Linked DNA regions of Homo sapiens: region 2 is linked to region 1. The links come from fine-mapping of genetic effects on gene expression. Tissue or cell type: esophagus muscle. Region 1 holds a variant in brackets; the other region holds the start of a gene. All regions are shown on one strand. Distances are between the middles of the regions.

Region 1 (5,157 bases):
ACAGATACCCATATGGATCTTGATCTTTTAGGTAGACACTTAAAGCCCAGTTCACAAGTCACTTTGCTTCATTGCAGACATAGTCATCCTTTATTTTTCATTAATCAATTCACTAAATACTCATTTCTTTAACAAAGGTTTTTTGGGTACCTACTATGTACTAGGTATCCAGGACTAAACACAACAGACAAAATTTCCTGCCCTCGAGAAACTTATTTCAAATAGAAGAAGACAGAAATCAATAGATGAGTAAATACATATAGTTTGCCACATGCTAGTAAGCACTGTGCAGAAGTCTAAAGCAGGGAGGGGGAAAGGGTGCACTGAATTAGAACAGAAAAGGAGGGAGTGTTACAGTTTAAGTAGGGTGTCAAGGAAGGTTTCCTTGGAAAGGTGACATCAGAGGAAATACTTGAGGGAAAGGAAAAGAGTCTTGTGTATTGGGAAGGAAATTGGTCCAAAGAATGGAAATACTAGGCACAAAGGCACAGGGGTGGGAGAGTGCTAATGAGTTCTTAGAATTGCAAGGAAGCTGCGTGTAAGGAACATCTTGAGCAAAAAGGAGAGGCAAACTAGATGAGGCAAGAAGGGCAACTGGGGTTGCGGAAAGATTAATAGATCTTTGAGGAAAAAAACAGATTGGAAGATTTTGAGTAGGGAAGTAACATGATGTTACTTGTGTTTTAGTGGGATCATTCTGCTCCTGTGTTTGGAATCAGAATGAAACATGGGGTCGGAGTGGGGGCGGGGGGGGCAGCAAATGTAAAGGAAGACAAGTTGGGAGGCTGTGTTAATATTGTTAGTATTTATTACACAAACAGAGTGATACACACCTGCTGCAAGATTTGTGTGTGGTTTTTCAGAGTCATTTTCACTATGGAATGATTTATGCGATATACACGGAAGGTATTTTTTTGTTTTCTCACCACTTTTAATCTACGTGCATGTTTTAAATTACTTTGCTTTTGTTTCAGCTGTGATTGTTAGCTCTCTTAGTAGAAATTTAAATGTTTTCTTAAACCAAGAGTTACCAAAGATACAGCAAATAAGGCTGGTAAAACATCTCAAAACTAAGCCAACCTCACTAACTAGTCTGCAGATAGAGACCAACATAAAATATCACAGGGTCTAAAATTACAAGGCACTAATGCTAATGCCAACTCTAGATAGTGGGCATGTTGATCTACTTTTTCTGTGGAGTAAAGTCAATGTAATTTTGTATGTGTCTATAAATATGTATAAGTTGAAAACATTTAAGTAGAACAGCCCCTATCCACATTTTCATTAACCTGCATGTGTATAACTATGTCTATATTTATGTGTACAGATATATTCACTTTGAAGTACATTTGCTGTCCCAAAATTATAGCTAGCCCGTTTTAAAAAACTGACTATGTATTGTGGCTGTCTCTAATCCCATAACAATGCCAAATTTCCCAAGGCCTCATTTCATATTGTGTTCCTGCATGTCTGACTGAAGGGTTTATTTCATACTTCTATACTAAAGTGCAATGAAAGCTAAAACCGTAACAGGGGGCAGTTCTTTCGCTTATTCTCAAAGGATTTATCTGAAGTCAAAAGGATAGAAACAGATTCATAAGCAACTTTCAGGCTATAATTTTTTTTGCCAGAAAAACCTAACTAGAGCATTTAGTATAGAAAGAAGAATGAGAAATACTACATGAACCCCCAAAAATGAGTCTATGAGGAAAAAAAGAGAAACAAAAGATATAGCCCAATTTTGATATCCACAGATAATAAAAGGAATATGTCTTATGTGCCCAGAAATTATTAGGATTTACATCCTAGAGATTGGATGACCTCATTGCTCCAAGGAATCCAGGCTAACTGTAAGTGAGCAATCAGAGAACTACTGACAAGCCCATCACTTCTTCCTGGGCAAGAATTTCTAAACTACAGTTCGCTTAGCAATTCCCCTCCATGGGCATAGGGGAACTTCCCCTTGTGTGTGCTGTCCTGTGGGAGAGCTGTGTTTGTTCTTGTCTGAATCATTGTTGCAGTTGCTGTCTTGTTCTGCCAAGGACAGTGCTCAGCACAGGGAGATAGAGTAGAAGAATAAAATCTGCTTAGAAACAAATCTAGTTAGAAACAAGGGACGTAATTCAGGAATCTCAGGAAATGGAGAGTGCTTGATGATAATGAGAAGCCATATAAGGGAAATACATTCTAATACTTAGGTGACATGCACGCAAAGAGAATAAGAGTAAGAAGCTGTTGTACAAGCCATCTTTCAATTGTTCCTGGATTCAATTTCTCATTAGGTTATTTGCCTTGTGTCCTCTCCCACTAGTAATGTTTTTCAAAATGGAGAAATACTTTAAATTATAAAGGTATACAGATCTGATATAAAAGTTGTAACAAAAAGTGTGTGAAATAGAAAATTATCTTCCAATTCTATAAATCCACTCCTCAGAGATAACCATTACACACATACATATATATGTATCACACACACACACATATATCTCTCACACACATATATCTCACACATATATATATCGCTCACACACACACACTTATATATTTGGCTTACCAAGACAATTAATATATAAACATACCTTAGAGTACAAATACGAAACTACAAATAATTTTTTTAACTTTTATTTTAGGTTGAGGGATACAAGTAAAGGTTTGTTATATAGGTAAACTCATGTCCTGGGGGTTTGTTGTAGAGATTATTTCATCACCCAGGTATTAAGCCTAGTACCTGCAGGTGATTTTTTCTGTTGCTTTCTCTCCTCTCACCCTCTATACTCCATTCTGAAGTAGGCCCCAGTGTCTGTTGTTCCCCTCTTTATGCCCATGTGTTCTCATCATTTAGCTCCCATTTACAAGTGAGAACATGCAGTATTTTATTTTCTGTTCCTGCATTAGTTTGCTAAGGTTG[G/A]TGGCCTCCAGCTCCATCCATGTTCCTGCAAAGGACATGATCTTGTTCTTTCCTATGTAGTACTCTATAATATACATGTACCACATTTTCTTTACCCAGTCAACTGTTGATGGGCATTTAGATTGATTCCATGTCTTTGCTATTGTGACTAGTGCTGCAATGAGCATTTGTGTGCATGTGTCTTTACGGTAAAACAGTTTATATTCTTTTGGGTATATATACCCAGTAATGGTATTGTTGGGCCAAATGGTAGTTCCACTTTTAGCTCTTTGAGGAATTGTCACATTGATTTCCACAATGGTTGAACTAATTTACACTCCCATCAACAATGTATAATCATTCCCTTTTCTCTGCAACCTCATCAGCACCTGTTATTTTTTGACTTTTTGATAGTAACTATTCAGACTGGTGTAAGATGGTATCTCATTGTGGTTTTATGTGTATTTCTATAATGATCAGTGATACTGAGCTTTTTTTCATATGCTATTGGCCACATGTATATTTTCTTTAGAAAAGTGTCTGTTCATGTCCCTTGCCCACTTTTAGTGGGCTTTTAGGGGTTGTTTTTTCTTGTAAATTTGTTTGAGTTCCTTAAAGATGCTAGGTATTAGACCTTTGTAAGATGCATATTTTGCAAATATTTTCTCCAATTCTGCAACTTATCTGTTTACCCTTAAACAGATAGTTTACTCAATAACAATTCATTTCCATGTTCGTATCTTATTTATTGTATTGGCTGCAATGATATCCATTATATAAAACTATTATTTTTTTAACCTAGTAAGTTGCAACCCAATTTTTATATATATGTAAAATATATATGTATATACACACACATATATATATATAAATTAGGTTGCATATATATACATAATATATAAATTGGGTTGCGACTTACTAGGTTAAAAAATATAGCACTTTTGTATAAGTATAATGTGTATATATATTTACATGTATATATCAGGTTGCATATGTATCTTTGCCTATGTCTATGTTTTTTTTAGATTAAATTCAGAGAATATACATATTGTAATTTGGATACATGCTTTCATATTGCCCACTAGAAAAGTGATATAATTTGTAGTCTTACCAGAAGAGAGTTTACAAAAGTGCCATTTTTTAATATAAAAGTCAACATTAAAATTTATTATTATATGCTATATTTTCATAATAAAAATTGGTCTGGCTTTTTTTTTGGGTTTATACAGTCTTGTCAAAATAGAAAGCTAGAAGCCATACTACTGATGTCTGAATAATATTGTCATAGAAATCTATGGCAGTGTTGAGGGGAGAGGAAGATGAAGTTTTCATTAACGAAGGAAATGAACAATAGGTGAAGATTCCACATGGGAATGTGTTGTGTGTTGATTAAGGGCAATTTGGGGGCATCAGGAAATACAGGTAACTTCTCTTGGAGCTGTTAGAAATGATATCTCATGTGAGAGGAGCAAGGCTGGGGAAGAAAAAGGGGACAGCCCTCAGAAAGTACATGCTGCGCTAAATATCCTCCATAAGGTGTTTGAAGAGAAAAACTTCTAAAGGACTCAGCAACTCATTATTTCTAAGATGCTGCCACAGTAGTTCATTTTAGGAAATATGTGTGTGGCTAGAAAAGCAGAATAAAAATTAGGAGTACCTAAGAAAATTTTTCCTCCCAAATATATTTTCCATCACATAGTAGTCATCTAATTCACTGTATCTCTACCTTGAAAAACTGCAAACACTTTTGGAAGAGGTCTACTTTAGCCAAAGTTCATGAAAAGTTACTCGCTACGCATGGCTTATTATCCTACTGAGCATGAGTACAAGCTTAGAATCATTCTTAACTGACTGGTATGGGTGAATATTAGCAACAGATCAGTCAGCCCGTTTAGTAAGCATACGTATTTATTCCTTTTATCTATATTTTATACATTTTTTTATCAACGACCATATCAACTCTCATTCTGAGTGTCGATTTGTGACAGAAGGCAAAGGAAAGAAAAACAGATTACATAAAGGAGTCTGTAAGTGTCAACAATAAACTTTTTCATAATTTTGTGAAGGATTTTAACCATGAATTACATCTGGTTTCAGGAGTCCTGAAGAACAACATTTTTATTCTAGAAAATATATTAGAAGAAAAGTATTCCCAATATGTCCTATAGCTAAACTTACATATTATCGAAGCAGAAAAGAAAAAATTAGACGGAGAAGGAGAGACATATGGAAAACCATGAGAAATATGAAACTGTCTGTACTCATGTGAA
Region 2 (5,157 bases), 500 kb after region 1:
GACAAAGCTTCATCTATATTTACAGCCACTCTCCATCACTGGCATTACCTCCTGAGCTCTAACTCCTGTCAGATCAGCAGCAGCACTGGATTCTATTAAGAGCAAATACAAACCCTATTTGAAGTGCACATGTGAGGGAGCTAGGTTGCGAGCTCCTTATGAGAATCTAGTGCCTGATGATCTGTCACTATCTCCCATCACCCCCGGATGTGACCATCTGATTGCAGGAAAACAAGTTCAGGGCTCCCACTGATTCTACTTCACGGTGAATTGCATAATTATTTCACTATATATTACAATGTAATAGAAATAAAGTGCTCAACAAATGTAATGCACTTGAATCATCCTGAAACAATTTCCCCCCACCCCAGTCTATGGAAAAATTGTCTTCTACAAACCCAGTCACTGGTGCCAAAAAGGTTGGGGACCACTGACACAGAGGCATGAGAAGGCAGATTGTCCAGGATCACTCAAGTGTAGTGGAAGAATTTAAACAGAGTAATCCAGAGGGCAAATAGAAGTTCAGGTTCAGGCCCCTAATGGTCCACCGCAGAATACAGTGACAGCTTACTAAGGCAGTGACAACTGGGACGGAAAGGAGAGAATACATGAGATGTTTAGAAGGTAGAATTAACACAAATTGTTGAAATTGAGCAATGGTGAAAATAAACCCTCACCCGTAATTCAGGACTCGCTCATATTAACTATGAATACATTCATGAAGAAAATTGAATAATGTATTTGAAATAACTGTGCCATCAGGACATATGGCTACTGTAAACCAAAAATTACCTCTGACTTAAATGGCCACTAATTATGTGGCACAACTTCTTTTTCAAGAACTGAGAAGGGATGAAAACACACACGCACACACACACACACACACACAAGCAAATTACAATGAAAAGAGGTACATGTTGGGGTGGAAGGAACAGTAAAATCCTTTGAACCATTCAAATACCTACATGATTTTATAAACCACCTTCCCGTATACTATTTGGTGAATTATCATTAAAAATCTCAAGCAAATCAGGCAGGAACATCATGAAAAAGTCAAATGATTGCAGGTAAAGAAAATTGTTTTAAATAAATGTAGCTTCACTAAACAAAATCTGCTTAATAATTTTGGCTGAAAGCTGCAGATAATATGTAGCAATAGGAGCAGGGAACTTAACATCTCTGCCAAGCAAAAAGAAACAATTCAGCAAGCAACAGTGAACTGATATGCACTAAATAAACAACCAGGCAGAAACACCGCTGTGAGAAAGAGCTTTTTATATAGCTAAGCCAAGCTGGATGGCTTAGAGTTGGAGAAAGAAGTGCTAAATATGTAACAGCCTGGGGCCTCGCTGGACCCAAATAATAGTTATTTCTGAGTAGGTCAAGCAAAAGTCAATAAAAAGGAAAGCAGGAATGGCTGTTGGGTTCATAATAGGACAATAATGCCCTTCTGGGAAAAATGTGAGTTTCAAATAGCCAGAATCGAATACTTAAGTTTCAAATGCTTTATCATAGACCACCAGTTCTGGAAATATCAGTAGAATAGCTAGAAAATAGGTAAATTCTGCCAACCAGAATAATCCCTAATACAGATTCCCTAAGCCAGTGTTTTTAACATGAGTAGAAGAATCACCTGCAATGGAATTACAAGGAAGCTTATTTAGTGGAAATTCCTGGATACCAGCTCAGACTTACCACATCAGAATTTCTAAGGAAGAGGCCTGGTAATTTAATTTTTAATTAAATTTTCAAAAGATTCTTCTGTCTTCTAACACCAGAGAACTTTTATTTTTGCGTATTTTGCATTTTGCTTTGCTTTCAAATGCCATCGTTCACAGATTAGATTCGTCAGAGAGAGAAAGGGAGATAGAAAGGGAGGGAGGGAGATCCGATAGATATATAGCCAATTTCTGGCCCAATTTTTCTTTTGCAGCAAGCAAAGGCTAAAGTAACACTCTGTAACACTTTATAACACTTTATAACACTCTATAAAGCACTAATTAGAAAACAGGTTATTCTGAGATAAAAGAACGTACAGCGAACAATTACTTTATAATCAAGTGTCAGATTGTATGGAGCAGAACATGCCCACTGTATTAGTCTGTTCTCACACTGCTACAAAGATACTACCTGAGACTGGGCAATTTATAAAGAAAAGAGGTGTATTTGTCCGTTTTCACGCTGCTGATAAAGACATAACCCAGACTAGGCACTTTACAAAGGAAAGAAGTTTAATGGAGAACTCACAGTTCCACGTGGCTTAGGAAGCTTCACAATCATGGCAGAAGGCAAAGAGGAGCAAGTCACATCTTACGTGGACAGCGGCCAGAAAGAAAAAAAGAGCTTGTGCAGGCAAACTCCTGTTTATAAAGCCATCAGATTTTGTGAGCTTAGGAACAGCATAGGAAAGACCCTCCCACCGCGTCCCTCCCACAACACGTGGGAATTCAAGATGAGATTTCGGTGGGGACACAGCCAAACCACATCAAGAGGTTTAATTGACTCACAGTTCCGCATGGCTGGGAGGCTTCAGGAAACTTCCAATCATGGCAGAAGGCTAAGGGGAAGCAAGTCACATCTTAAATAGTGGCAGGAGAGAGACAGAGTGAAGAAGGAAGAGCCACTTTTAAAACCATCAGTTCTCCTGAGAACTCACTATCAAGAGAACAGCATAGGGGAACCACCCCCAGGATCCAATCACCTCCCATCAGGTTCCTTCCTTGATACATGGGGATTACAGTTCAAGATGAAAGCCTAACCATATCACCCACAAAGGTGAATCAGAAGCTGGACTTCTCTGTGATTTCTTCCATTCTTCAGTATTCCTGAATCCCTTCCAGTAAAGTTTCTATACAACAATCTATCAGTAAGGCATTATCATTTAACAAACCTTTTAAAAATTATACAGGAAAACATTTGTTGAAGAATTTGGGATAGTATCATCTATAAAAATTTACTTAAGATGATTTTTTTTCCTTTGCTGGTAGGAGAGAAAGCAAGATAATAAATGCACTTAGTAGAATATCATAGTAAACAAATTGTTTAAAGATATATACTTTACTCTCCCGTAAGACTATGCATCTCTTGTACAGACATCCTGGTGAGAAAGTGGAACCCTAAATGGAACACTGAGCTTCAGGCATTTTTATTGGACCTCCGAGGAAAGGTACAGGCAAGTGGGGTCAGGTGTCTGGGATGATTGCAGTTGTCAGTTAAACTCTTGATATAGTTTGGCTGTGTCCCCACCGAAATCTCATCTTGAATTCCCACATGTTGTGGGAGGGACCCGGTGGGAGGTAACTGAATCATGGCGGCAGGTCTTTCTTGTGCTGTTCTCATGATAGTAAGTCTCACAAGATCTGATGGTTTTAAAAACAGAATTTATAAACTTGTGAATATATGGGTATGATGCAAACCCTAAAATCATAAATTCATCTAATAATTGTGATATCTATCTCTATAAGGCATGTATTGAGGGTGAAATTGAACCTGAAGATTTGTTAAATGAAACTATGAAATAAGTTTGTAAAGACATATGCATACTTCACCAACCTGCTCAAATTTAGATCGGCAAACCCTTTCCTCTTGATGGGAATGAATGAATGAAATCTGAATTATGGTCTGCTATTTCTTCTACCAAAAGCCATAAGCTTGAGCCAATAGGTGTGTAATAATTTTCAATGCTATTATTAACAGTGTTTATTTAGTTAATGCTCCTGATGAAATAACAATTTTTGATCTAGATTCTTTAGAGAGTGTTATTTAGAAATTAAGTTTCAAAATTCAAAAATTATTTTAAAAAAGAGTAAACTAGCAGACTCATCTCTTAAATATTAGAGTCACTTCTACATCCCAAACTCTAACCACCCAGCCAAATTTATTACTAATGGGTAGGTACAGAGGGTGTTTAAGAAAAAGATATAGATTACAGCTTTGCTTTATTCTATTTGAAAATTACTCAGCTTTGTGCCCAGCTGAACTCACTAAATTTCAGCTGTACCCAACATAGAATGTGAGGTGGATTCAGTTCTGTCCCACAGCTGACCAGCAACTACAGAAAGATTGAAGCCACTGACCTCAGGGTATGACTATAACCTCGGGGACAATAAGTAAGCAGGTAGTCCCCAGGTTGGGGCCAGACTTAAATGCTCCCATCAGAACTTCCTTGAAGAGCATAAATGTCCTATTAGTATATTTTATTTCTTTGAGATTTGTTATAGTGAAACTTTAGTAGCAAAAACATTCAAAAATATTTATGACTTAGAAAATACTTTGACTCACATTTTCCTCACCAATTTGGTTGTAATTTGGATAAAATATGAAACAGTCCCTTTTTACTTCTAAAGAAAAAAGAATGGAGAATTTTCCACAAAGAGTTACCAGTGATAACCACCTTTGTGAATTAACTATAAAAAAGAAATACCAACATTATGAGTCCTGGGCAGACTATTCATCCTTCTTTTCCATCACTTTATCTCTCTAAGAAAAAAAACACAGTTACAGGTTAACTAGGAAAATCTATAATTTAAAAAAACCTTTTTTTTTTTTTTTTGTAGAGCTTTGTATCAAAGAGCAATTGCATTCCACCTATGTACCACAGTAATACTGGTCAACATCTGTTTTTTCCACATATCTCCTAAAAAGTTATGTGTAGTCTTCCTAAAAATTGTCTAACAAGCAGTACTGAAATAGTTGTTAAAGTATTATAACAAATAATGCTCCTTTTCTCTTCCAGGTACTCAAAAATCCTGATCCATAGGAAAAATCCACATCCAAATGCAAGGTTTGCTCAAGTTCATTTTCATTATAATGCAGGCACTTTATATCACTTCAGGGCTTCTACCAGGAGAAATATTAGAAATATTAAAATATTTATTTTTGTTCGTCTTCCTTTTTTGGTAACAGACCTCAGTACATTTGCAGAATGTCTTGTAGACCCAGAACATGCTGGGTGAAAACAACTTTTGCATATTTTTGCATGGCTAGTAAGAAGCCATTCTTTAAAAGCATATCACCTGTCAGCATTACTTTCCAGAAAATATTTTCAGTTCTGTGCAGCTGCATTTTACTTCCTCCATCCTTGGTATAAGTGTTCAACCAAGTGCATGCTTTGCACCTTCAAATGTATTTTTCCAGTTGCATCCTTGTTTTTATTTT

What was found. PIP is the estimated chance that this variant, and not a neighbour inherited with it, causes the effect. A credible set is the group of variants that fine-mapping cannot tell apart.
Region 2: LINC02147 starts here. The variant in region 1 is the best candidate, but not a certain one, in a credible set for the expression of LINC02147 in esophagus muscle (GTEx, PIP 0.76).

What each region holds. Positions count from the first base shown.
Region 1 is chr5:118,225,534-118,230,690 of GRCh38, reverse strand. The region is part of intron 2 of LINC02147 (long intergenic non-protein coding RNA 2147); the gene reads right to left. Among named protein-coding and RNA genes, the nearest start is that of LINC02148, 54 kb to the left of the region's middle. The variant G/A (reference allele first, on the strand shown) is at 2,909.
Region 2 is chr5:117,727,759-117,732,915 of GRCh38, reverse strand. LINC02147 (long intergenic non-protein coding RNA 2147) reads right to left here and starts at 2,555. Exons shown (of 3, transcript NR_104997.1): 1 at 2,508-2,555.